Regions from separate parts of the Homo sapiens genome. Here regions 1, 2, 3, 4 and 5 are each reported to be linked to region 6. Evidence: microRNA targets listed by miRTarBase, many of them from high-throughput screens and not tested one by one. Region 6 holds a microRNA gene; each other region holds the end of a gene's coding sequence. Distances are from middle to middle.
Evidence for each region. Region 6 holds the annotated microRNA hsa-miR-455-3p (GCAGUCCAUGGGCAUAUACAC, at 2,199-2,219, shown strand). A microRNA usually pairs through its seed, bases 2 to 8, with sites in the 3' UTR of a target mRNA and lowers its output. Matches are read on the target gene's strand: a 7mer-m8 pairs with bases 2 to 8, a 7mer-A1 pairs with bases 2 to 7 and ends in A, and an 8mer does both.

Region 1 (4,103 bases), not on the chromosome of region 6:
AGTCCCCCAACAGAGACTCTCTTTATACAAGCATGCCCAATCTTAGAGACTCTCCCTATCCGGAGAGCAGCCCTGACATGGAAGAAGACCTCTCTCCCTCCAGGAGGAGTGAGAATGAGGACATTTACTATAAAAGCATGCCAAATCTTGGAGCTGGCCATCAGCTTCAGATGTGCTACCAGATCAGCAGGGGCAATAGTGATGGTTATATAATCCCCATTAACAAAGAAGGGTGTATTCCAGAAGGAGATGTTAGAGAAGGACAAATGCAGCTGGTTACAAGTCTTTAATCATACAGCTAAGGAATTCCAAGGGCCACATGCGAGTATTAATAAATAAAGACACCATTGGCCTGACGCAGCTCCCTCAAACTCTGCTTGAAGAGATGACTCTTGACCTGTGGTTCTCTGGTGTAAAAAAGATGACTGAACCTTGCAGTTCTGTGAATTTTTATAAAACATACAAAAACTTTGTATATACACAGAGTATACTAAAGTGAATTATTTGTTACAAAGAAAAGAGATGCCAGCCAGGTATTTTAAGATTCTGCTGCTGTTTAGAGAAATTGTGAAACAAGCAAAACAAAACTTTCCAGCCATTTTACTGCAGCAGTCTGTGAACTAAATTTGTAAATATGGCTGCACCATTTTTGTAGGCCTGCATTGTATTATATACAAGACGTAGGCTTTAAAATCCTGTGGGACAAATTTACTGTACCTTACTATTCCTGACAAGACTTGGAAAAGCAGGAGAGATATTCTGCATCAGTTTGCAGTTCACTGCAAATCTTTTACATTAAGGCAAAGATTGAAAACATGCTTAACCACTAGCAATCAAGCCACAGGCCTTATTTCATATGTTTCCTCAACTGTACAATGAACTATTCTCATGAAAAATGGCTAAAGAAATTATATTTTGTTCTATTGCTAGGGTAAAATAAATACATTTGTGTCCAACTGAAATATAATTGTCATTAAAATAATTTTAAAGAGTGAAGAAAATATTGTGAAAAGCTCTTGGTTGCACATGTTATGAAATGTTTTTTCTTACACTTTGTCATGGTAAGTTCTACTCATTTTCACTTCTTTTCCACTGTATACAGTGTTCTGCTTTGACAAAGTTGGTCTTTATTACTTACATTTAAATTTCTTATTGCCAAAAGAACGTGTTTTATGGGGAGAAACAAACTCTTTGAAGCCAGTTATGTCATGCCTTGCACAAAAGTGATGAAATCTAGAAAAGATTGTGTGTCACCCCTGTTTATTCTTGAACAGAGGGCAAAGAGGGCACTGGGCACTTCTCACAAACTTTCTAGTGAACAAAAGGTGCCTATTCTTTTTTAAAAAAATAAAATAAAACATAAATATTACTCTTCCATATTCCTTCTGCCTATATTTAGTAATTAATTTATTTTATGATAAAGTTCTAATGAAATGTAAATTGTTTCAGCAAAATTCTGCTTTTTTTTCATCCCTTTGTGTAAACCTGTTAATAATGAGCCCATCACTAATATCCAGTGTAAAGTTTAACACGGTTTGACAGTAAATAAATGTGAATTTTTTCAAGTAGTTAACATGTGAACTTTTATGTATGATACATAATTGGCTTTAACATGTTGGTCCATTCCCACCTTGGTTTAAGTAACGTCATACCAAAGTCCATGGATATATGAAAGGATACAATTAAGTTGCCTGTTTGTTCTTTATGCTGAAAGGAATATATGTCTTCCAATTGCCCACTACATATGCACAAAATCTGCTGGATAAGTTTTAAGAGGGATATATTCTGAAAGCATTTTTGTTTGTTGCATTGTACCAGGACTAAAAAAAGAAGGATTGGAAGTTCTGCCATCAAATTTGGGTATCATAAAAAGTTTTTAACTGATTTTTCAGCAGTATTGGGAAGTTTCTTAAACATACTTTAAGGATTATAAATATCCCTATAGACAGCTGTGAATACCAATATACATTACCCTGGAAAAGTTTTACTCCAAGTTCAAAAATCATATAATTGAATATCAAGAAATAGATGTTTTCTGTTTGTATCATAAGCATTTATAGAAAATTATTCTAAAGCTTAATGGTTTGCTATAATTCTCAAATACTACCACTAGCTTATAAATCACTTTTATGTGGACACACACATGCCTATTGAATTTAAAAAGGAATGAGATTTAAAAATTAAGTGCATATATATAATATACATATATATATATATATATATATATATATATTTTTTTTTTTTTTTTTTTTTTTTTTTTTTTTGGGACAGAGTGTCCCTCTGTCACCCAGGCTGGAGTGCAGTAGTGTGATCTCGGCTCACTGCAACCTCCGCCTCCCAGGTTCTCAAACAGATTTAACAATCCTCTGAGAATGGTACTCATTTATTTGGCTAAAATTCTTCAGGGATTTATAAACTACTTGCTAAAGGAGGGCATTAGATAATCAAGTATTTTTAATTTTCCATCTTGTTATACTTTTTATTTTAAATGCCTAAAACCATACAGTATTGTGTGATGTGTAATTCCTAGTATACAAGCTACCTAGAGTCAGGCTGGTTCAGTAATAAATTTTTTTAAAGGCAACACTGATTATTCAGTTAGTCCTATTTCTTTCTCTTGAGGCAGTTCTCAAAACTCTAAAGACATGAACACTGCATCGTACCTAAATGGCTACTGTTCTCTAACGTCTTTATCCTATGGATTCAATTTGGAAGCCATCATTGATCTTTGGCATCAAAAGAAAAGTCATTTTTAAAGCATTTCTTTTCAAAAATATATAAATATTGCCTTAAATTCCATCTAGGATTCCCTTAGTACAAGGTAGTTTCTTAGGTTTGTAATTACTAAACTACTGACTGTTTTAATGCAGATGCGTTATTGTATTTATTAACCCAGTTTCTTTGGGTCTGCCTAGACTTCACCTGAATGTACAGTTTTCACATTCTTGATTGTTTCTCTTTGTGATAGTCACAACTGTGAACTTATAAAGTCACATTTTTAAAGTTCTTCCTAGAGACATTCACTCTGTCTTTATTAAAAATAATAATAATAATAATAAACGTTATCTTGTTGGCCAGACTGGTCTCCAACTCCTGGTCTCAAGCAGTCCTCCCAGTTGGGCCCCTCAAAGTGTTGGGATTAGAGGTGTGAGTCACTGCGCCCAGCATTAGTCTATTCATAATAAGGATGTTTGTGTACATTTGTTTTATATGTGACTTGTTACAGGTTAGTCCAGATTGACCTCTTGTTTTTTAAAAAAGGCCGTTCTATTTGCAAAACACACACACACACAAGACCCACTTATAGTTTATCCATTTATATATTTTTGTCTTAGAGGTGTTTATATTCATTTATGTGGAAGAGAATCCATACAAATCTATAAATCACTTAAATATGTCCTCGATTTCCACTCATCCACATTTGAGGGCAGTGACATATAATATTTTAACCAGTAAAACATTATTTGACAGAAAATCACTGTCTTCTCCCCAAAAAGAAGAGAAGCATCATGCACAAATTTATTGCTAAATTTCAAAAAAAAATTAACATGCACTTGTTTTATGGATGTATTTACTATGCTTTATGTATTTATTTCAATGAGAAAAGAGAAAATGTATCTTTCCTTCAATTCAACATTGAACCTCAAGCTTAAAACTGACCTTTTAATGTCCTCTTGTGGGACAGGGAGTTTTGTAAACAATTTTAACTCAGTAAGTTACAACCTTCTAAGTAGAAAAACTTGGAGAAATTCACACTAGTTGAATTTTTGAAATGAAAATAGCTCTTTGTATTTTCTCCATACTGATATCTTTAAAGGCAGTCCTTCCTGCAGTATTTTACAAATAAAGCTTAGTACCTAGAGTTTACACAATCCTGTGTTCCAGCTAATTCTCTTTCCCCGAAATTATTTCATTAAATCTCAAATGTCAGTATGGAAAGTTACTGGCGTGTTGAATGTAGATGAGAATTACTTCTCAGCATAATAAAATTAGTTTTGTGTTTTTTTTTTTTTTGGTGAAAATGCCATATCGTATGCTTCCTGCTAGTGAGCACCAAGTTGATTGGGAGTAGTCCTTAAACAGCATGTATAGGGAGACTGGAA
Region 2 (4,106 bases), not on the chromosome of region 6:
AGAGATGTTGAGTAAACACATTCTGTGTGTGAAAAGCAGCCATTACATTAGGTCAGGAAACAGAGCCAGCCTCCTACCCCTGCTTTAGTCTGTACCTCCATTCTTCAGACAGGTGTTCAAGGGCAATCATGTAGCTATCACAACTAGAGTTTCTTGTCAACTGTGCTCGCTGCAACTCCACTTAGCTTTGGTGCTGCCTCCTCCTCATGCCCTGGCAGGTCTGCTCCTGCTACTATTCCCCACAGTCAAGAACTGCTTTGAGGCTAGGCACCGTGGCTCATGCCTGTAATCCCAGCACTTTGGGAGGCTGAGGCGGGTGGATCACCTGAGGTCGAGAGTCCGAGACCAGCCTGGACAACATGGTAAAACACCATCTCTACTAAAAATACAAAAATTAGCCAGCTACTTGGGAGGCTGAGGCAGGAAAATCACATGAATCCGGGAGGCGGAGGTTGCAGTAAGCCGAGATCGTGCCACTGCACTCCAGCCTGAGCAACAGAGCGATGCTCTGTCTCAAAAAACAAAAACAACAAAAACAAAAAACAACTGCTTTGAAAGGGATCAAAGTTGGGGACTGGGCCTTTTTTGAATAATCTCAAAACCTCATCCTAGGAAATGAATTACCCAAAGGGGCCCACAAGAGAGATCTTAATGTCAAAATATTCTGTAACAATGAGACCTGACCCACTGATCCAATACTTTAGGAAATAGCATGATGAGCAAGTGAAGGCATTGGTGCTTCACATCAGCTTCTCCCAGAGCAAAAATCTGAGATTAAAGAGGTCTAGAGGGTTAGAGGCGCACATTTCATAGTATACTTTAGTCCCTCCTGAATCACTTTTATCAAAGAGCTAGCTGTAAAATAGATATCCCGATATCCAACAAAAGCAAAAACAAAATAAACAAAAGTAGACCTGGGCTTCACAAATAAGGAAGCACTCTTCATGAAGCTCTGTAGCCATGTAGCTTCCCAAAGTAAAAGAGCACCCTTATTTGATGATGGGCCAAGAAACTCACTCACTTAAGGCCGCCATGGTGGCTCATGCCTGTAATCCGAGCACTCTGTGAGGCCAAGGTGGGCGGATCACTTGAGGCCAGGAGTTTGAGACCAGACTGAGCAACATGGCAAAACCCTGTCTCTACTAAAAATACAAAAATTAGCTAGGTGTGATGGTGCACACCTGTAATCCCAGATAACCTGTAATCCCTCTCGAGGCTGAGGCAGGAGAATCACTTGAATCCAGGAGGTGGAGGTTGCAGTGAGCCAAGATCGAGCCACTGCACTCCAGCCTGGGTGACAGAGCAAGAGAAAGATGAAAGACAGAAAGAAAGACAGACAGACAGACAGAGAGAGAAAGAGAAGGAAGGAAAGAAAAGAAAGAAATGAAGAAAGAGAGAGCTAAAGGGAAAGAAAGAAAGAGAAAAAAAAGGAAAGAAAGAAGGAAACTTAAAATTTTGGAATGCATAATAATTCATCCTTAAATTTTGCACATTTACCTTCTCAAAATAGTTCTTATTTAGCAGGGATGAAAGTAAATGCCCAGCCGGGCACCAGTGGCTCACACCTGTAATCCCAGCACTTTGGGAGGCTGAGGCGGGCAGATCACCTGAGGTCAGGAGTTCAAGACCAGCCTGACCAACATGGTGAAACCCTGTCTCTACTAAAAATATAAAATTAGCTGGGCATGGTGGCACATGCCTATAAATTCTAGCTACTCAGGAGGCTGAGCAGGAGAATTGCTTGAACCCGGGAGGCGGAGGTTGCAGTGAGCCAAGATTGCACCATTGCACTCCAGCCTGGGCAACAAGAGCGAAACTCCATCTCAAAAAAAAACCAAAAAATCAAAAAAAACAAAGAAAGTAAATGCCAAACGTATGTCAATTACTGATGAATGGAAGGAAATTATCACATTTGGCAAAATTAGTTCAAAATGAATAAATCACAGAAATTCTCCTCCCATAAGAAAATACCTAATTTGGATCTTCAGGAGTAAGAACCAGAGATCCACCAGACATTATACATGCTATAATTTAGGTATACTGCACAGAATTACACTCTTATCACATTCTCAGTAAACTCCAGACATCTTAGTCTTACAGTTGAATAAAACTGCTGCCAATGTCTTCTCTTGGTTTAACAATGAAGCTAACGTAGTTTGGAAACAAATAAGAGCTATCAATGGACAGCAAGACATCTATCTAAACCAAACCTTTAGCAGAGAGATCAGTACAGATTATGTATGATACAGACCCCAAATCACACAGGTACACACACTTTATTAGTTTCCTCTACAAGAGACAATAACATCAATCTTTTTTAACAGGAATCTCAGTTCATTTGAGAGGCCAAATAGATCCAAAGAAGGAAGATGAAAATTAAATACTTAAATTAATCAAAAGGCACTACGATACCACCTAAAACCTACTGCCTCAGTGGCAGTAGGCTAAGGAAGATCAAGCTACAGCACATCATCTAATATGAATGTTAGCAATTACATAGCAGGAAGCATGTTTGCTTTCCAGAAGACTATGGTACAATGTTCATTTGGGCCCAAGAGGATATTTGGCCAGGAAAGGATCAAGATAGATGAAGGTAAAGCCAAATCGAAAGGGATAGGTACAAAGGAGAATCCAAGCTACATAGTCAAGCAGATGGTGATGGATCAGGCTTCTTCCTCCCAAGAAACATTTGCTGCACTGTGCTGCCTCCCCCCTCAACCACCCCCCACCCCCCACCCAATGTCTGCTCAAGCTGAGCTGCCTGCTCCTGCCTTACAGGGTGCTCAGCTACCAGGACTAGGTTTGGGGTTGCCCAGGGCTCTTGCTATAATTTAGCATAGACCTTGGGGAGAACTGGTCACACATGGGTTGCCTTTGTTGCTAGTTGTTCTCAACAAAGAAAACCCTGAAGCATTCACATACAAAGTAGTCTGAGCTTCCCCAGTCACAGTCAAACACCCTCACACAACATCCTCAAAAGTCTGAAATCTTGCAGCAGCTGAGCTATAGTTAAAGCTGCAAGGCCCACAGAATTATCAAGGAAGCCAGAATGAGATAATGCAGGTAGGAGGTCCCAGCAGTTAATCTCAATCCGTCTTTCCCCAGTTCGGATAAGCTCTAATATACCTGATGTGGGATGTAGAAAGCTACACTGGAGCAAGCCGGGTCTTCTGCTGAATTTGTCATCAAATACCAAGGGGAAACAAGGGTGGGGTGGATTTTATTCTCAAAAAGCCTCAGAAGTTACTCTATTATAAAGGGACATGGCTGAATAGGTAAGAAACGGATTCTCCATTGTGAGTTCTCCTGATGGCTTCTGCAAGGATCATAGAGATGTCAATCACCTAGAAAGGCAAGAAAGGAAATCAGGTTACTATCATATGGTCAGAGATGACTGGCCAATTTGCAGACACTGATGAGCAGCCAGGCAAGTGCCCTTCCTCTTAAAACTGCAACACTGTGCTGTTTCCCTGTCATGAGGCTGCACTCAGCTATTCTTCATAACATTTTTAAGATAGCCACTTACGGCTGGGCACGGTGGCTCACACCTGTTAATCCCTGCACTTTGGGAGGCCAAGGTGGGCAGATCACTTGAGGCCAGGAGTTGGAGACCAGGCTGGCCAACATGATGAAACCCCGTCTCTACTAAAAATACAAAAATTAACCAAGCATGGTGTGGCACACGCCTGTAATCCCAGCTACTCGGGAGGCTGAGGCATGAGAATTGCTTGAACCTGGGAGGTGGAGGTTGCGGTGAGCCAAGATCGTGCCACTGCACTCCAGCCTGGGTGACAGAGCGAGACTCTGTCTCAAAACAACAAAACAAAACAAAACAGCCACTTAGGAAAGAGTCAAAATGCTAACTGAGAAAAAACGCTGACTTTGGTTCATCAAAATGGCTGGGCACTGTGGCTCACACCTGTAATCCCAGCACTTTGGGAGGCCAAGGTGGGAGGATCACTTGAGCCCAGGAGTTTGAGTCCAGCCTGGGCAATATGGTGAAACTCTGTCTCTACAATAAAACAAAAATTAGCCAGGCGTGGTTGTGGTGTATGCCTGTAGTCCCAGCTACTTGTGAGGCTAAGGCAGGAGGATCGCTTGAGCCT
Region 3 (4,089 bases), 110 Mb from region 6:
AATTCCAATCTTCCCAAAATAATCAGTATAATTGCAGAAGGAAAAATTAATGAGACTATTAACTATGAGGATCCTTGTGCCAAACGCCTAGCTAATGTCGTGCGTCAGGTACAGACTTCTGAAGATTTATGGTTGGAATGTGTATCACAACTTGATGATGAACAGCAGGAAGCCTTACAGGAGTTGCTAAATTTTGCTTGAAGCACTTTAATATAACTTGAATATTATCTATTATAAAAGTAACTACAAATAAGTGTTGTGAATAGATTTTATTATAAATCAGAGAACTGTTTTCTCCCTGCTAAGCAGTTTATAGTTCTTCTCCATGTTTCTCCAGAATTAATCAGTGTTAGTCCTCTGTTTATCTCGCATGTTTTATCTTCCAAACACAGACCTTGGTGATAACCTGTGCTTCAAACTGTCTTAAACAATGTTTGTCACCTTTCCCCTAGTTGATGTAAAGTATATAAATTGTTGCTATTTGTTTGAACTATTATTGATGCTAGCCAAGCAGTATACTTGATGTGAAGATGTCATGCTATCACAATATGCTAAGAGCTCACAAAAATAAGATAGAATTTCCAGGACAAACATCTTTGGAATTGTGAGTGAAGGATATAGTGGCAGGCTTGTCCCTCTTTAATTAATACTCTTGGTATTTGTGGTGATGGGAGGATGCTGTTACTAGGAGAGTTTTGAGATACTGCAGTGGATGTGGGATGTATATGAACTTCTTCATAATGTACTCCTGGGAACTGGGTAGGACATATCCATATTGTAGTTCCCAAGGTGTCTGGTTGAGAGTTAGAGAACTTTTAAATTTCTTTAGCCAGACAGGTCTCTATTTTTTTAAGTTATCCAGGACTCCAAGAACCATAGTTACTGAAAAGGGAGTCCTGATACATCTAATATTGGTAGCATGTAACAGTGTTTGACAAAGAGTAAGTAAGCAGTATTCTTGGGAGTCAGTGTTATGTGTTTCAGCAGAGTATTATTTTGTATATGTATGCCATTTTCTCCCTGCAAAGCAGCTCAACAAGAGAAAAAGCTCTAGTTATAGGGCTTAAATTGATTTCTATTTCAAATAATTTCCTAAGAGATTCTAGAGTAGAACTGAAGAGTATTCTATTGGAAAAGTGAAAGGAAAGAAATGTAATTTTCTTTGAACATGAAAAAGAAAACAACTTTGAGAGTAGTCATTTAGCAGTAGATGTGCATTATTATGAGAAAACAGTTCTATAAGTCCAGGGTTAATTATATTAATTGGAATGTCAGTCTTTAATGTCGAGCTTATTGTAGGGTAGAAAAGAGCTTTCTACTCAGCTAACGATTACTCATTGATCCAAAACTTAAATACATCTATAATTTCCTGGGGCTATTGTGAGTACTGTGTATGTATTTAGCAAATATTTAAGACCTAGTAAGTGCTCAATAAATTGTAGCTGTTATTGCTGTTGTTGTTTGTACCTCTATTGTGTCTGGAACTTCTTTTACTTTAGAATTTTCCCAATCCATTCCCTACTCATTCATATTGGCAGGCTATTTAGGCTATTGTTGACAAGAATATAAAGTTGAGATTTTAGATATGCAATTCTGTCCATTCCATGTAATTATTACTAATGGGGGAAAAAGGAAAATTAAGGACATTATGTATAGTATGATCACAATTTTTAGTATATTTAAGATAAATAAAGTATAGAAGAATGAATAGAAAAATCCCACCTCAAAGTATTAATAGAGGTTTTCTCTAGGTGGTAGGATTAAGTGGCAAATTTTCTCCTCACTTACCTATATTTTCTAATTTACCTACATACCTACAACCAACATATTTCTTGTTTTGTTTGTTTGTTTTGAGATGTAGTTTTGCTCTTGTTGCCCAAGCTGGAGTGCAATGGCACGATCTCGGCTCACTGCAACCTCCGCCTCCCAGGTTCAAGCAATTCTGCCTCAGCTTCCCGAGTAGCTGGGATTACAGGTGCGCACCACCACTCCCAGCTAATTTTTTGTATTCTTAGTAGAAACGGGGTTTCACCATGTTAGCCAGGCTGGTCTAGAACTCCTGACCTCAGGTGATCTGTCCACCTCAGCCTCCCAAAGTGCAGGGATTACAGGTGTCAGCCACCGTGCCCAGCCCATATTTCTTGTGTAATAGAGTTTCTTTTTTAAGATCAAGGACCCGATCCTACTTTCATTATAGTTAAGTTGCTATCATCTTGACCTCTTCATAACCTAGAGTTGAGGTTCCTTCTACTCACCCACACCTTTCTCTTTTATATAATCTTAATTAAGAAACCCTTTATCAACATTTCTAGCAATTCCCTACACTTTTATGTATGAGGAATTAGAAATTCTGCCAGATGACTTGGAATTAGGCACCTGGAGTTTTTGAAGTATGACAGACCTAGATTTTAACTTTGTTTAACAACTTTCTTAAACTAAGAGGCAGTTTCCTCATCTGAAAAATAAGGTTAATACCTAGCTGATAGGCTTGTTGTGAGATTAAAGGAGACAATGAATATAAAGTGCTTAGTGGCACAGGGTTCAATAATGTAAGCTAATATTGTCCAAGAGTCATGAAATAGAGCTGATGACTAAAGAGGAGTAGAGGATGTTTGCTTGGGTACGTTGGGCTTCAGATTCCTGGGCTTTGTCGAAAGAAAGGAGGAATGTCTAGTCAGACACACGTTTTGGTTGCCAGGTGCTGAAGTAAGACTGATCCCTGCATTTTTCTTTCTGTGAGCTGAGGTTCTGTGGACTCTTCAGAGTCCACAGACTCTTCTCTGAGGGGAGAGAACCCTGTAAATGCGTTATATATTACAAATGTCTGATGAGAGGAGACCTCGAATACTAGATAAAAGGTATGTGTGGAGGACAGTGTGAATACCCTAACAGAGCGTTCCCGCTTCACTATTTTACTTAAGAGTGATACTTAACTTACTGGACAAAAACAGCTTTGAGGTTAAAAAAAAATTTTATCACTGCTTTAAAGTTCACATTAATGAGAAGTAAACAATTGCAAGAGTCAGAGTATCCTAATCATTTAGTTATACACATTTTACTTTTAAAATGCATGATTTCTGTAATTTTGTTTTTGTGTTTAGGTAATTCTAGGTTTTAACGAGGGTTCTGTGTACCTAGAAAAAATAATATGTGCGTCTTTCAAATAGAACATGAGGAAATAGTAGTATTTGCTTTATGGAACCATGAATTCCTACCTCCCAACTAATTTTAAGTAACATGTAAACCAATGTGAATGATGAGTCCACTTTTTAGTCATTAAACAGTAATTGTAAAATGTAGTGAGATTATCAGCCCATGCAAACAACTGTTTAATGCTGTACAACTCAGACATGAACTATTTTGACTGTTTTCAGTCCCAAGAATTTGTTTAAATGAGGTTCCATTCTCTTTATTCTTAACAGATCTCAAGAATCGGGAGGGTGGAAATTTGTAACTGAAAACATGGAATTAGTTCCAAAATATGAATTGATGTTAAGAGCTGGGGTTCTAAAAATCACTTCCTTTTCTTCTGCATGTGAACGTATGGTCGAGTCCTTAAACTTTCTTTCTAAACTTCTCAAAATTCTGGTTATATATAGAAGACCCGCAGTCACAAGGGAGAAAGGGTGGGAACAGAATGTAAATTTTATAGTAGAGAAGATTTACATTTTGCGCTTTCTCACTATTCATTTGCCATTAACAAAGGTTATCTAGCAACTTTAATTTTAGTTTGGGGGGCTAACACGGGTCTTGCAAAAGAAGTTTCCTCTTGAAGCACTTGCTTTAAAAAAAGCCTTTTGGCCACCTTCCCAGGCGGTAGCGAATTAAGCTGCGCAGGCGCCTTGCTTCCCCCTCCATCAACATGTTCGATTGGCCTACGATTGATTACATCATTGGTCCGCGCAACCCTAGCAGGCTTCTGGGCCTGTAGCTGAGCCGAAGCTCTTCCTTTTGCGTAGCGGGGCGGGGCACGATGGTGGCGGGGGGGGAGGGGGGAATTGTTCTACTACGCATGCGCACCGGGGATGGCGACAGGGCCTCTTTCTTTGCTTCTCTCCACAGCTCTTCCCAGCCGGGGGGCTGAGTGCC
Region 4 (4,000 bases), not on the chromosome of region 6:
CATGGACAGGATCTTGGGGCTCTGAATTTCCAGTGCCCAGTGACCGTGGCAGGATATAAGGCTTTAGTTTCCCGAGGACAGGGGCTGGACCAGCTGTTTTCAGGCCTTTCCCGCTCCTGCAGCGCCCCCTGGTGTGGGGGGACCAGTCTCTGCAGCCACCGCGGACCCCACACCCCACAGCCAGAGGGTCCTCGCATCCTTCCTGATGACCAAGTTCCCTCCCACGGGCTCACACCCGACCGCTGGAACCCTTGCTTCCCTTGGACCATGAACAGTATAGAGGAGACGCTCTCATTCTCCATTAGTGGGTCAAATGGTTTCAGTCACTTTGGGAAATGGTGGTTTGTGGTTTTTTTAATTAAATTAATTTTTTTTTTTTTGAGACAGGGTTTTGCTCTGTTACCCAGGTTGGAGGACAGTAGCGTGATCACAGCTCACTGCAGCCTTGAACTCCTGGGCTCAAGTGATCCTCCTGCCTCAGCCTCCTGAGTAGCTGGGACTACAAGGCACGAGCCACCGTGCCTGGCTAATTTTTGTATTTTTAGTAGAGCCGGGGTCTCACTATGTTGCCCAGGCTGGCCTCGAACTTCTGGCCTCCAGTGATCCTCTGGCCTAGGCCTCCCAAAGCCCTGGGAATACAGGCATGAGCCACTGTGCCTGAATCTGGATAACTTCTCAGCACATAAAAGGAGTCTTCTTAGAAGGATAGTTTTGTAAGTTCTGTATCAACATCCCAGGGCACGATTAGGAACAAAGCCCCATTGGAGCCCACGGGAATGTCTGTGTGGTGTTTGACTGAACCTTAGGTTGGACTCAACTGGATTGGGCGTCTGACTTTCTCACCCACTGGCCTGCCCAGCTCTTGGGAAAGAATCACATCTTGTTTTTCTTTGTGTCCTAGTCTTCCCATGGTGCTTGATTTCTGAGCCAGCCCTTAGTCTGACTGAATTCTCCTGTCTGCCTTTCTGTCTCGCATTCCTTATGGAGTGCCTACATTTTGTGTAGTCGTTCATTCACTCAGTCACTCTGACAATCGCTTATTGCACAGATATGTGAGTGTACCAGGGATGTGCTACCTGCTTGCTGAGCATGCAGCCAAGTGGATGCAGCTAACATCCACTTGTTACTCCAGGTGAGTAAGGCAGACAGTCATCAGATAATGACACAAACACATTTCACAAACTGTAACAAGCGCTATGAAGGGGACAGTTCATATGTCCCCTTTCCATATCCTCATATGAAAGATGCTATGGGGCATCTTTCGAGGTCAAGGGAAGGCTGCAGGGGAGTGAGCAAGGGGGCAGGAGCCACCTCAAGCCAGAGAACAGAAATTGGGCTTTATTCTAATATGAAGAGAAGCTAATGAGAGCTTTAGGCAAAGCCCAATATGTCTGATTTATGTTGTTTAAAGACCCCTTTGGCTGATGTGTTACATGCGGGAGTGGCTTGGAGCGGGGAAGGGGAAGCAGGAGACCACTTAAGAGGCTGTTGAGTGGCCCAGGAGAGATGCCAGTGGCTTGGATGGGTTGGGTAGCAGTGGGGATGGACAGAGCACTGGGAATATGCATTGTGGGAGTGCCAAGGTGGATAGGTGGATATTAGTTCTTTTTTCTTTTTTTTCAGACAGAGTCTTGCTCTGTCGCCCCGGCTGGAGTGCAGTGGCGTCATCTCCGCTCCGACTCCCGGGTTCACACCATTTTCCCGCCACAGCCTCCTGAGTAGCTGGGACCACAGGCGCCCACCACCATGCCTGGCTAATTTTTTTTTTTTTTTTTTGTATTTTTAGTAGACAGGGTTTCACCATGTTAGCCAGGATGGTCTCGATCTCCTGACCTTGTGATCCGCCTGCCTCAGCCTCTCAAAGTGCTTGTGAACTACCGCGCCCGGCCCCTAATTACTGCTTTTGAATGTTAACTTTAAGTGAAAAATCTTTTAGCAATGTTTTGTTATGTAAGGATATTTTCATATTCAGTGACTATGTCATCGAAACACATGAATTACTTATAGGGGTACCAGCAGTTGCTGAATATTAAATGTAGGTTACTTGTTCTTTCAGCTTCTACATTCAGAGTTCCTTAATTTGTCGTCAATGAACCACCTGAATAAAAAACGTAAATATGTGACAATGAAGGTCCACGAAAGCTAGGTGCAAGATTACATGATCAGATTCTTCACAACACACAGCTAAATGAAAATACAGCTACTCTATGAACCTCAAAGATCTTTGATGACACTGCAAATGACACAAAAGCAACCTAAGCTGTATGCTTTTTTAGCATCTACTATTTAGGAGGGCCACCTTATAAAATAGATTTGAATCTCAATAAAAGTCTACTGTATCCGCAGGAAAATCCTAATACCATTCACTCACACAAATAATTTAACTATCCATTTCGAGAGGAAAGAAATATACCATGCTCTGGACGGGCGCGGTGGCTCACGCCTGTAATCTCAGCACTTTGGGAGGCCGAGGCAGGTGGATCACGAGGTCAGGGGATCGAGACCATCCTGGCTAACACAGTGAAAACCCGTCTCTACTAAAAAAAAATACAAAATACAAAAAAAATTAGCCGGGCATGGTGGCAGGCGCCTGTAGTCCCAGCTACTCAGGAGGCTGAGGCAGGAGAATGGCGTGAACGCGGGAGGCGGAGCTTGCAGTGGGCCGAGATTGCGCCACTGCACTCCAGCCTGGGCGACAGAGCATGACTCCGTCTCAAAAAAAAAAAAAAAAAAAAAAAAGAAAAGAAATATACCATGCTCTGAAATAGAAGCTACAGCTTTTCACATTAGCTCTCTAAAGGAGGTATACTCAAGCCCCTTTTCTTTATCCCACTACTAAAAAAGCACATGAGCAGTACGTCTATTTCAAACACACACAAGGAAATACGTAAAGCTCTTTTCAGAAGGAAATCATTTCCAATAAAACTCAAAATTTCTATTAACATTTAAATTATAAACCAAACATTGGCAACCCACATATATATATACACACACACACACATATGTTTGCTATGGACAAATGAAGACTGTGAGGTCATACTTTCAAATACAACTTTGGAATTAGTCACAAAAAATCAACATATATTCTCAGAAATTGTACCATTTCCTTTGGTCTACAATCCACGCTATAGGAGGTTTAATATAATATTAAATAATGTACCATTTACCCTAAAAGTAGGTTCTAGAAAACTGACTATTAGGATTGAATAACAAGGCTTTAATGGCTCAATTTTCTTATGATTATACAAACATATAAATCTTGAAAAGGTAACGCCATTTAGTAAAATCCATAAAAATAACAGTTTTGCCACAGTGCAGAGAAAAGTTCATTCAGTTTGATTCCCCATGCCCTCGACAAGCAGCTTTCTGATTAGAGCTGGAAGACACAGGCTGGGTGCAGTGGCGACCCCGTAGTCCCAGCTACTGGGGAGGCTGAGGTGGAAGGATCACTTGAGCCCAGGAGTTTCCGAACAGTCTGGGCAACATACCAAGACCCTGTCTCTTTTTTTAAACTTGGAAGACATAAAGTCTATACATTCTACACTGAATCATGAATATACTACGGAGAGTTTGTAGAAAGTAAACTTTAAAATCCCACACTCCAACATCATATATGTCCATAAGCAGGATTTGCAATTCACTTCATACTGGAGGTAAGCACCCCAGCTGGGGTCCTCTTGCCGCAGTGGTCAGGCCGTCAGAGCTGAGGCCTTTCACTGCAACAAGGGAAGTAGTCTTCGGTCCGAAACAGGACGGGGGCTTCGTAGCCGGCTTGCTGTGGCCTCGAGGGAGCAGACTTGCTAAAGAGCGAGGGCACGTTCATCGTGTGCAGGAGCTTCTTGAACGCCCTGGGGAAGGTGCCCAGCTCGGCCTCGGCCTTGGTGACCTGCTCCTCCATCCTGGCCACGCGGCCCCCCACCATCCTCACGAAGGCCTCCAGCCGGTCGATCCTGCTGTAGATGCGCCGCATCTCGGCGGCCTTCGCGTGGATGCGCGGCAC
Region 5 (4,106 bases), not on the chromosome of region 6:
TTAACCATGTGGCCATGTTAATTCCATCTTGAAGGCAGGGAGAGGTCATGGGCAGCCCCACTCCCCCTTATGGCACTCTGATGTCCCCAGTCACGGCTCTGGGTCTCTCTCCACAGCCTTACGACAGTCTGCCTACCTCACAGACCTGCTTCTTCCAGCTGAGGCTGCCCCCGTACTCCAGCCAGCTGGTCATGGCCGAGCGCCTGCGCTATGCCATCAACAACTGCCGCTCAATCGACATGGACAACTACATGCTCTCGAGAAACGTGGACAACGCCGAGGGCTCCGACACTGACTACTGACCGTGCGGGTGCTCTCACCCTCCCTTCTCTCCCTCAATAATGCTCACTTCTGATTTGATGTTGATATACTTTTATGGTAACTACATAGATGTTATAAGAACATAAACCAACATTATAAACAATGGCCACATTTAGTTACTCTAAATGTAACAAAGAAATTAGATGTTTTTATTTTTCTGTGATTGTACAAAAACAACAAAAACGAAGTGCTCTCAGTCAGGTTTTTCCCTCCATATTTTTGGTCACTTTTGATAAGTTTGCATGAAACCATTTTGGTGCATTTTTAGTTGGGAATGGTACATTTTTGTAAATCCACCCAGTGAACATGAAATTGTACATTGTGTATAATTGTTCATTAGAAAGGACAGTTTTACATGAATATTCATATATTTATTTTGTTTTAATTTGAATTGCCTGTTCAGGGTTCCTTATGCAGAGAAATAAAGCAGATTCAGGAATTGGAGCGTGGCTCTTGGTATTGCTTCCTGCGGAGCTTCTGACTAGGGGTTACCATCGAGGCAGACATTAGCCCAGAACAGAATGAGCTTCCAGGCTGGTCTTGCTCTGATGGCTTTTTGACCCATTCAGAAACATTTCTTTACATTGAGGGTGGGCTTCACTTGGAAATAACGTATCAGAGAACCGTGTGGTTCTAGGAGATCCCTCTGGGTTGGAAGCCCCTATTTTCCATTGTTCTTCTGTCATCCTGGGTCTCTCTGACTTTGTTCCCTCAGCTGCTCCGCCCCTCTCAGTACCACGCATCCTTCTCTGGACAGCCCCAGCTACCTCATGTGGAGGGCGACTCTACCAGACAAGGAGGAAGAGGACCACAGTAATGCCATCTGGCCCTTCCTATGAAGAACCTACAAAGACAAAATGAGCACGTGATGGAATTAAAGAACAGGGTAGTTTACAACATGTCTCAGTGGGGAGGGCAGCCAAGTGGAAGGTGTTACAGAAAGGCCAGCAACTGCTAGCAGGCACTTAGCATGTATCAATGAGTGAATGAGTGAGTGAATGTGTGAATTAGCATGAGAACTGATGAGTGGCTTTCATATCCTTGAATGATAGAATTGTGCAGAGGTCTGGGGAAGGGGTTACATTCTTGGTGCTCAAACTCAGCTAGCCCCTGCGGGCCCTGAGTGCTGTGTGTGTGTTCAGCAGCATCAGGGTGAGCCTGTGTTTCTGGGGGAAAGGGCCATCTTGAGAGCAGCTGGGAGGGCTTTGGCCTCTTGGAGTGTGTGCAGGAAGAGGGGAAGGCCTGTGGACAGCTTGTCTCCCTCACCTACAGCAAGTTCATGCCACAGGCTACTTCCACTGTACTTCGCGGACAGGGTCTTTGCCGACAGCCTGCTCAAATGAGGTGCCAGACAGACAGCCCTCTGCAGGCAGTTATTTTCCACAAGGAAGATAGGTGTATGTCTTCAAAGAGAAATTAAAAGAAAAATAAGGTTTTGCCAGCTAAGATAATGTGGTAAATGGATCTTTCTTAGTGAGAATACCTAATAATATTTAGAATGATGACATCTTCGTTTTATTGAAAAAAGGCTTCAACTAGAATTGGGTCTCAGGGAGAGACTCCAGCTTTGGGGGGAACCCCAGGAGTTCTGGGTAAAGATGAGGCTTTAATACCGATCTAAGAGCGCAGTCAGTAGCATCGTTGAAGGGCTTTGGGCTTGAAGCCCTCCTGCTCGGGGTGGGAAGGCCCTGCCTGGGCCTCTGGACCAGGAGAGAATTTAAGAAAAGAAAGGCTCACGCCTGTAATCCCAGCACTTTGGGAGGCCGAGGCGGGTGGATCACAAGGTCAGGAGATCGAGACCATCCTAGCTAACATGGTGAAACCCCGTCTCTACTAAAAATAAAAAAAATTAGCTGGGCATGGTGGTGGGCACCTGTAGTCCCAGCTACTCAGGAGGCTGAGGCAGGAGAATGGCATGAACCCGAGAGGCAGAGCTTGCAGTGAGCCAAGATCGCGCCACTGCACTCTAGCCTGGGCGACAGAGTGAGAAAAAAAAAAAAAAAAGCATCTGTGCTGCCAAGATCCTGGACGAATCCAGGAGAGGCCTCTTAGGGTCTTCTGAGCCGCTTCCTGCGTCCCTCTTGCTGAGCTGGGCTGAGGACATGCAGAGCAAAGGATACCTCTGCAGTCTCTAAATTCAAAATAATGCCTCACCCTGTGCTGCTGCCACAGTTTGCTCTGGACTCGGGGGCAGGAGGACCCCCAGAAGGCTGGCACTCATGGTTGCAGGTCCTGGGCTCAGGGCTAACAGACAGCAGCTCAGGTTTGACCCTGTGAGGGGAATCTGCACAGTGCCATGATTTTATAACACACACTGTTTCGTTGCCAGAAACTGTTATTTCCTCATTGTCTTGACTATGTTTTCATTTTTGCAGAGACAGGGTCTCACTATGTTGCCCAGGCTAGTCTGGAACTCCTGGCCTCAAGCAGTCCTTCCACCTTGATCTCCCAAAGTGCTGGGATTACACACATGAGCCACTGTGCCCGGCCTCTCTTGACTTTTTGAAAACTCTGGAAAGGGGGAAGCACAAGTCCCTGATCTGAGGAGCTGAAGTGGGCCTGGTGCAGGTGCTTCCCTTGGTTTACTTTCAGCTCTTAGAGAGGCTTAGGCAGTTGTTTGCTGGCCTCATTCACTTAACAGATACTTGCAGTTTTTATGACCCTTAAGCAGCCTCAAGCAAACGTTGACCATCAGTTTTTAAAATTTAAGATTTCTCCAGACATCCTTCAAAGTATGGCTTTGTTCTGGGCCTCCTAGCTTTGTGGCCTTTGCCCAGGACTTCTGGCCGGATGAAGCCCACATCTTGTGAGCTTGGTTTTTAGCCAAAAGCAGATCTTGGGCATTGAATCCTAGAGCTGGAGGGAAAGTCTCTAAGGGGTCAGATGATCTCTGCCTTTATAAACCAAGAATCCAAGGTCAGGAGAGGGAAAGTTGGATCATAGGTGTGCCCCGACTAGAACTGGGAGCCTCTGCTTCCTGTCAGCGTGCCGTGGTAGAGCCGGGGTGGCTCAGTCACTTCCCCTCCGAACACTCATCCTGTGCAGAAACAGGCCAGTGTGTCTCTGTAAGACAAGCCTCAGAGCACCACCTCCTGCTAGCAGCCTGCTGCCTCCTGGGGGAGATCTGGAACCCTGACCTAAGAGCCTGTGGCCCTGGTCTCTCTGCCGGCACTGGGGCTCCTATGCAGACCAGTGCAACGTGGTGACAGGTCAGCCTTCAGCCAGGGAGCAGTGTCCTGCCCCAGTGGTGAGGTTCTGTTCTCTCCCACCACCTTCACCTGCAAGTGACCATTCGCTGCCTTGGCCAAACCTTAGAAAGAGTTAGCATTGCAGGAGTTGAGGGATGTCTATGATCTAATAGAGGCTGTGAGGGCATAGATAATCCCAAACCATTTCTGGGTGGCTCGGGAATACAATCAGGCTTCCATCAGCCCTGGCTCACCCCTTCCCTGGATATGCCTTGGGCTTCTTGACCTTTGCCTTTGCTGTGCCATGCCTGCCAATGGAAATATTCTCCTTAACGGTTGGAACCTGTGGCCCAGCTCAAAAGCTCTGTCTGCCACAAAGGGTGCCTGGCTTACCCACAGATAGACCTGGCTTGCTTCTTCCCAGTGCCTGGGATTTGTGTGTTGTGCCAGGCACTCAGCTTTTCTAGCCCCCCAAGGATATGAGGATACCTCCCCCTATCCCCCAGTCCCAAGAGGGTATTGGTCCCATTTTACAAATAAAGAAACGGAGGCTCAGAGAGGTCATATCTCGTCAAAAGCTATGAATGGCAAAGCTTG
Region 6 (4,106 bases):
GTGGGGAGGCGGGAGTGGGGGCGGGGAGGTGCATTCCCCAGGAGGTTACTGTGACAGGCAGGGCCTAAGGAGGCTCTTGTCCCAGGGTGCTGTGCCTCTCTTCCTTTATTCTGCTGCTCCCATGGGCCATTCCCCCAGAGGGACCCCCTAAACCCAAGGAGAAAGGTCTTCTCAGTCCAGCCCCAGTCCTGATCTCCTGACCTGCCAGAAGGACAGGCATGTTAATGACATCTGGGGTTGCTCGACTTGCCTGCCAGGCTGGTGGCATCTCAAAGTCACATAGCAGGAGAGGACTGGTCTGGCCCCAGCACTCCTGTCTCTTACAGGCCACACAGCCCTGGGTGGGAAGCCTGGATGAGCAGTGAGTCACTCAAGCTGCCCTTCCAACCCTGCCACCACCAGCCTCATATTTCTGAAGTAGGCAGAGGGCAGGCTTTGGAATCAGGATGACAGGCTTTGAGACCTGCCCTGCCATTAGCTAGCTGTGGGAGCTTGGGCAAGTCACTGGGCCTCTCTGAGCCAATTATTTTCTCACCTGTAAATCTGGGAGATAAGCACTATTTGGAATGGCAGTAAATGGCACTCTTTCAGATTATGGATATTAATCATGCTGGATGCCAACGAGGAGGCTCAGTGGCTTCTTGGCCTTCCAGGGAAGGAGAGATGGTTGTGAGCCTCCATTGGTTGCTTGTTTGAGGAGAGGCAGTATGCAGAGTGGTTAGGAGCCCAGGCCCAGGAGTCAGAAGACTTGAATTTGAATACCAGTTCTACCACATTTCAGCTGTTTGGTCCTAGGCAAGTTGCTTCACCCCTCTGGGCCTAAATGGTCTTACCTCTACAGGGGGCTGAGTAATAATACTTCCTCAGGGCTGGGCGCGGTGGCTCGTGCCTGTAATCCCAGCATTTTGGGAGGCCAAGGCGGGTGGATCACCTGAGGCCAGGAGTTCGAGACCAGCCTGGTCAACATAGCGAAACCCCGTCTCTACTAAAGTAACTACAAAAATTAGCTGGGCGTGGTGGTGCACACCTGTGATCACCTGTGATCAGCTATTCAGGAGACTGAGGCAGGAGAATCGCTTGAACCCGGTAAGCAGAGGTTGCAGTAAGCCACGATCGCACCACTGCACTCCAGCCTGGATGACAGAGCAAGACTCCGTCTCAAAAAATATATATAAATAAAAAAATAATAAAATATAATACTTCCTCGGGGTGTGATAAGGATGGAATAAATGCTTTAATATATGCAAAGCACTGGCAGCAGGCCTGGCCTATCATTCGTGCTCAATAAACATTAGCTTTTGTTAGAGTTATTATTAAATCATTCCACCAAGAGTGGCACGCAGATAGTGGTAGAAGCCCCGGGCGAGGTTACTGCCCTTTAGAAGTTCCCAGGCTAATGAGGACGTGAAGCATGAACACAAATAATGAAGATACAAGGGAGAAAGTGGAGAAGGATGCTACCGAGGTGCAAAAATGGCACTGGGGATGGGGGGGAGAGATTGCTTCCGGCTTGGGGTATCAGGGATGCTTGCCCAAGGAGAGCGCTTATGAGAGCTGGGCTTTGAAGGATTTGGCTCAGAAGTCATGAGGGATGGGAAGGACATGCCTGGTGGAGGGGACAGAGTGAGGAAAGGCTGGGAGGGAGGAAATGAGATGCATCCTAGGGAAGAGCCCCAGAATGGTGACGAGCCCCAGCTGTGGAGTCAGCTGGCCCTGGGTGACCCTTGAACTGATTAGGAATTCCCGAAGAGAATTCACAGCTCCACTACTGACTAGTCGTGTTGCTTTATCTACAGAGCCTCAGTTTCTTTGTCTGTCCAGTGTGGGTGGTGACAATCTGGGGGGTCCTTGTGAGAGTCTAATGTGGTAGCATGCATGTGCCTGGCACAATGTTGGCACTCCGGGTTCGCAGCCGCTGTTAGTTAATGCCAGCACTCAGGCGGCCAGAGGTGGATGTAAGCCCTACATCCAGGACCTTGAAGGCCTAGGAGGAGCCATGGCAGGAGCCACGGGCACCTACCAGCATCCCTGGGGGTGGGCAGGGCTTGGTGCCGTGCTAGCATCTAACCCAGCCGCGAGCTTCCTTCTGCAGGTCCTGGAGCCCTGGCGTGGGGCGGGCCTCCTGCCGGCGAGCGCCTGCGCCCTTCCCTGGCGTGAGGGTATGTGCCTTTGGACTACATCGTGGAAGCCAGCACCATGCAGTCCATGGGCATATACACTTGCCTCAAGGCCTATGTCATCGAGGAGCCACCGGAGCTGCCACTGCCACCAGGGAGGAAGAGGAGGAGCCGGGATGTGGGATGGCAGTGGTGGGTGGGCTGCGGCAGGTTGGGCCAGCCACACCTCACTGCTTGACCGCTCTGACCCCCTTTCTTCTCTTTCCTAGGGCTACATTGGGCTCCCAGGGCTCTTCGGCCTGCCAGGGTCTGATGGAGAACGAGTAAGTTTGCTTCTTTGGTTATTCACCATCCACAGCCACCCCTGCCCAAACAGAGCAGAACCTGCCAGGCACCAGCCTGGGGAAGTCAAGGAATTCCTCCTGGAGGAGGTGCACTTGAGTCGAGTAGGAGTCTGATAAGGGGACAAGTCAAGGCAGATGCATTCCAGGCATAGGGAACAGCATGTGCGAAGTCAGGGATTTACGGTAACTTGGCGAGTTTAACACTCAACACTGCCAAAGTGCTGCGTGAGAGGGTGAGAGTGGTGGGAGTTGAGGCTGGAGAGGACCCTGGGGCAATGTCTTAGGTGCCCAGGACTAAGGTTAGAAAAGGAACTCTGTTCTGAGGGTATGCGGAGCCTCTTGAGGACTTGCAACCAATGAACACCGGGCCCACTTTATAATATAGATCAGGGGTCTGCAAACGGTGGCCCATGGGCCAAATCCAGCCAGTTGTCTGTTTTTGCAAACAGTTTTATTGAACTCAGCCTTGCTCATTTGGTTACATATTGTCAATGCCGCTTTCTCACTACAATGGCAGAGTTGAGTAGGTGTGACAGAGACCGTATGGCCCACAGAGCCAAAGATATTCACTATCTGCCCCTTTCCAGAAACCATCTGCTGATTCCTCTTTTAGACAGATCAGTTGGTTTACTTGAGTAAAATGTGTTGGTTGGGGGTGGGGACAGCAAGAGCAGGTGGCAGGAGTTCCAGCAGCCAGGGGGAGCGGCTGTCTGGGGAAGGTGGTGGGACTGGTTTGGTGGTGGGCAGTGGGTGCTAAGATTTCCTAAGACACCCTGTCCTTCCAGACCAAGTATCTAAGTCAGAGGAGTCCAAAAGATGGTGTGGGAGCTTCTCACAGACCCCTGGCCCAGCCTGGAGGTCCATTAGAAGCCCCTGGGGTGGTGGCCTCGGGATCTTCCTCCCCGCCCCCTCCCAACCTGAGCCCGTATCTATGGGAACTCACTTGTAACCTCCATAAGCTGGGTATAGAGAACCTTAGGACAGCTGGAGCCTGAGCATTTATGAAGCACCTGCTGATTACAGGAACTGGCATTTCTCTGTCTCTTAGGTCACCACAGACCCCGACCCTGCCATCCGTCTGATGTGCATGTCACTGGGGCCGCCACGCAAGTGGCACACATTCCAGGCCCTCTGTGACTTCCTGCCGTGGGTGGCTCTGGGCTGGTTTGGGGCAAGCCTGGCTGTCCCTGCTGGCATCCTGCCCTGACCTCTCCCCTGTCTCTCCCCTGCAGGGCCTGCCTGGCGTTCCTGGCAAGAGGGGCAAGATGGGTATGCCGGTAAAGATTTTCCGTGTCTATTACGCAGACTCTAGCGGGGAACCCCACCTCCCACGGCCACGCTGCCCTGGCCACCTGCTGCCTGGCATCTTCTGCTTCTCCCCCTGCTTTGAGTGTGGGGGCCGCATGTGGGGTTGTCTGGCCACAGGACCTGCTGCTGGCACACGGCGTGACTGGGGCCTGGCTGGGGCTGGGGCTTCCATGGGCTCTGGACCCCTCTGGGGTAGCTCCTGTCTCCCTGTGGGCATCAGTGGCTCTCCAGTGCAGTTCTGTGTCTGGGGGCTTCTGTCTAAGGTATTTGTGTCTGTGGGTCTGCTGTGACCGGGGGACCTTGGCTAGACCAGGTGACTCTGCTCCCATCTCAGGGA

Region 1: miRTarBase lists ADGRL2 as a target of hsa-miR-455-3p. The part of its 3' UTR that is shown has no 7-base or 8-base seed match.
Region 2: the mRNA of PRPS1 is a reported target of hsa-miR-455-3p. The part of its 3' UTR that is shown has no 7-base or 8-base seed match.
Region 3: the mRNA of RANBP6 is a reported target of hsa-miR-455-3p. The part of its 3' UTR that is shown has no 7-base or 8-base seed match.
Region 4: the mRNA of BLOC1S4 is a reported target of hsa-miR-455-3p. The part of its 3' UTR that is shown has no 7-base or 8-base seed match.
Region 5: the mRNA of HERC1 is a reported target of hsa-miR-455-3p. The part of its 3' UTR that is shown has no 7-base or 8-base seed match.

The regions. Positions count from the first base shown.
Region 1 is chr1:81,990,856-81,994,958 of GRCh38, forward strand. ADGRL2 (adhesion G protein-coupled receptor L2) reads left to right here. Exons shown (of 24, transcript NM_001366006.2): 24 at 1-3,077. The coding sequence ends at 290. Among named protein-coding and RNA genes, the nearest start is that of ADGRL2, 190 kb to the left of the region's middle.
Region 2 is chrX:107,649,178-107,653,283 of GRCh38, reverse strand. PRPS1 (phosphoribosyl pyrophosphate synthetase 1) reads right to left here. Exons shown (of 7, transcript NM_002764.4): 7 at 2,258-3,344. The coding sequence ends at 3,252. Among named protein-coding and RNA genes, the nearest start is that of PRPS1, 23 kb to the right of the region's middle.
Region 3 is chr9:6,008,402-6,012,490 of GRCh38, reverse strand. It overlaps RANBP6 (RAN binding protein 6), which reads left to right. Exons shown (of 1, transcript NM_012416.4): 1 at 1-1,466. The coding sequence ends at 201. It overlaps BRD10 (bromodomain containing 10), which reads left to right and starts at 4,009. Exons shown (of 8, transcript NM_001017969.3): 1 at 4,009-4,089. RefSeq lists a silencer at 3,942-4,089 and an enhancer at 3,979-4,089.
Region 4 is chr4:6,716,561-6,720,560 of GRCh38, reverse strand. It overlaps BLOC1S4 (biogenesis of lysosomal organelles complex 1 subunit 4), which reads right to left. Exons shown (of 1, transcript NM_018366.3): 1 at 2,897-4,000. The coding sequence ends at 3,698. Among named protein-coding and RNA genes, the nearest start is that of BLOC1S4, 2.4 kb to the right of the region's middle. RefSeq lists an enhancer at 3,346-3,985.
Region 5 is chr15:63,605,277-63,609,382 of GRCh38, reverse strand. HERC1 (HECT and RLD domain containing E3 ubiquitin protein ligase family member 1) reads left to right here. Exons shown (of 78, transcript NM_003922.4): 78 at 117-765. The coding sequence ends at 302. It also overlaps a transcript of FBXL22 not described here. Among named protein-coding and RNA genes, the nearest start is that of USP3-AS1, 6.5 kb to the right of the region's middle.
Region 6 is chr9:114,207,289-114,211,394 of GRCh38, forward strand. MIR455 (microRNA 455) reads left to right here and starts at 2,146; the gene lies at 2,146-2,241. It overlaps COL27A1 (collagen type XXVII alpha 1 chain), which reads left to right. Exons shown (of 61, transcript NM_032888.4): 11 at 2,387-2,440; 12 at 3,694-3,738.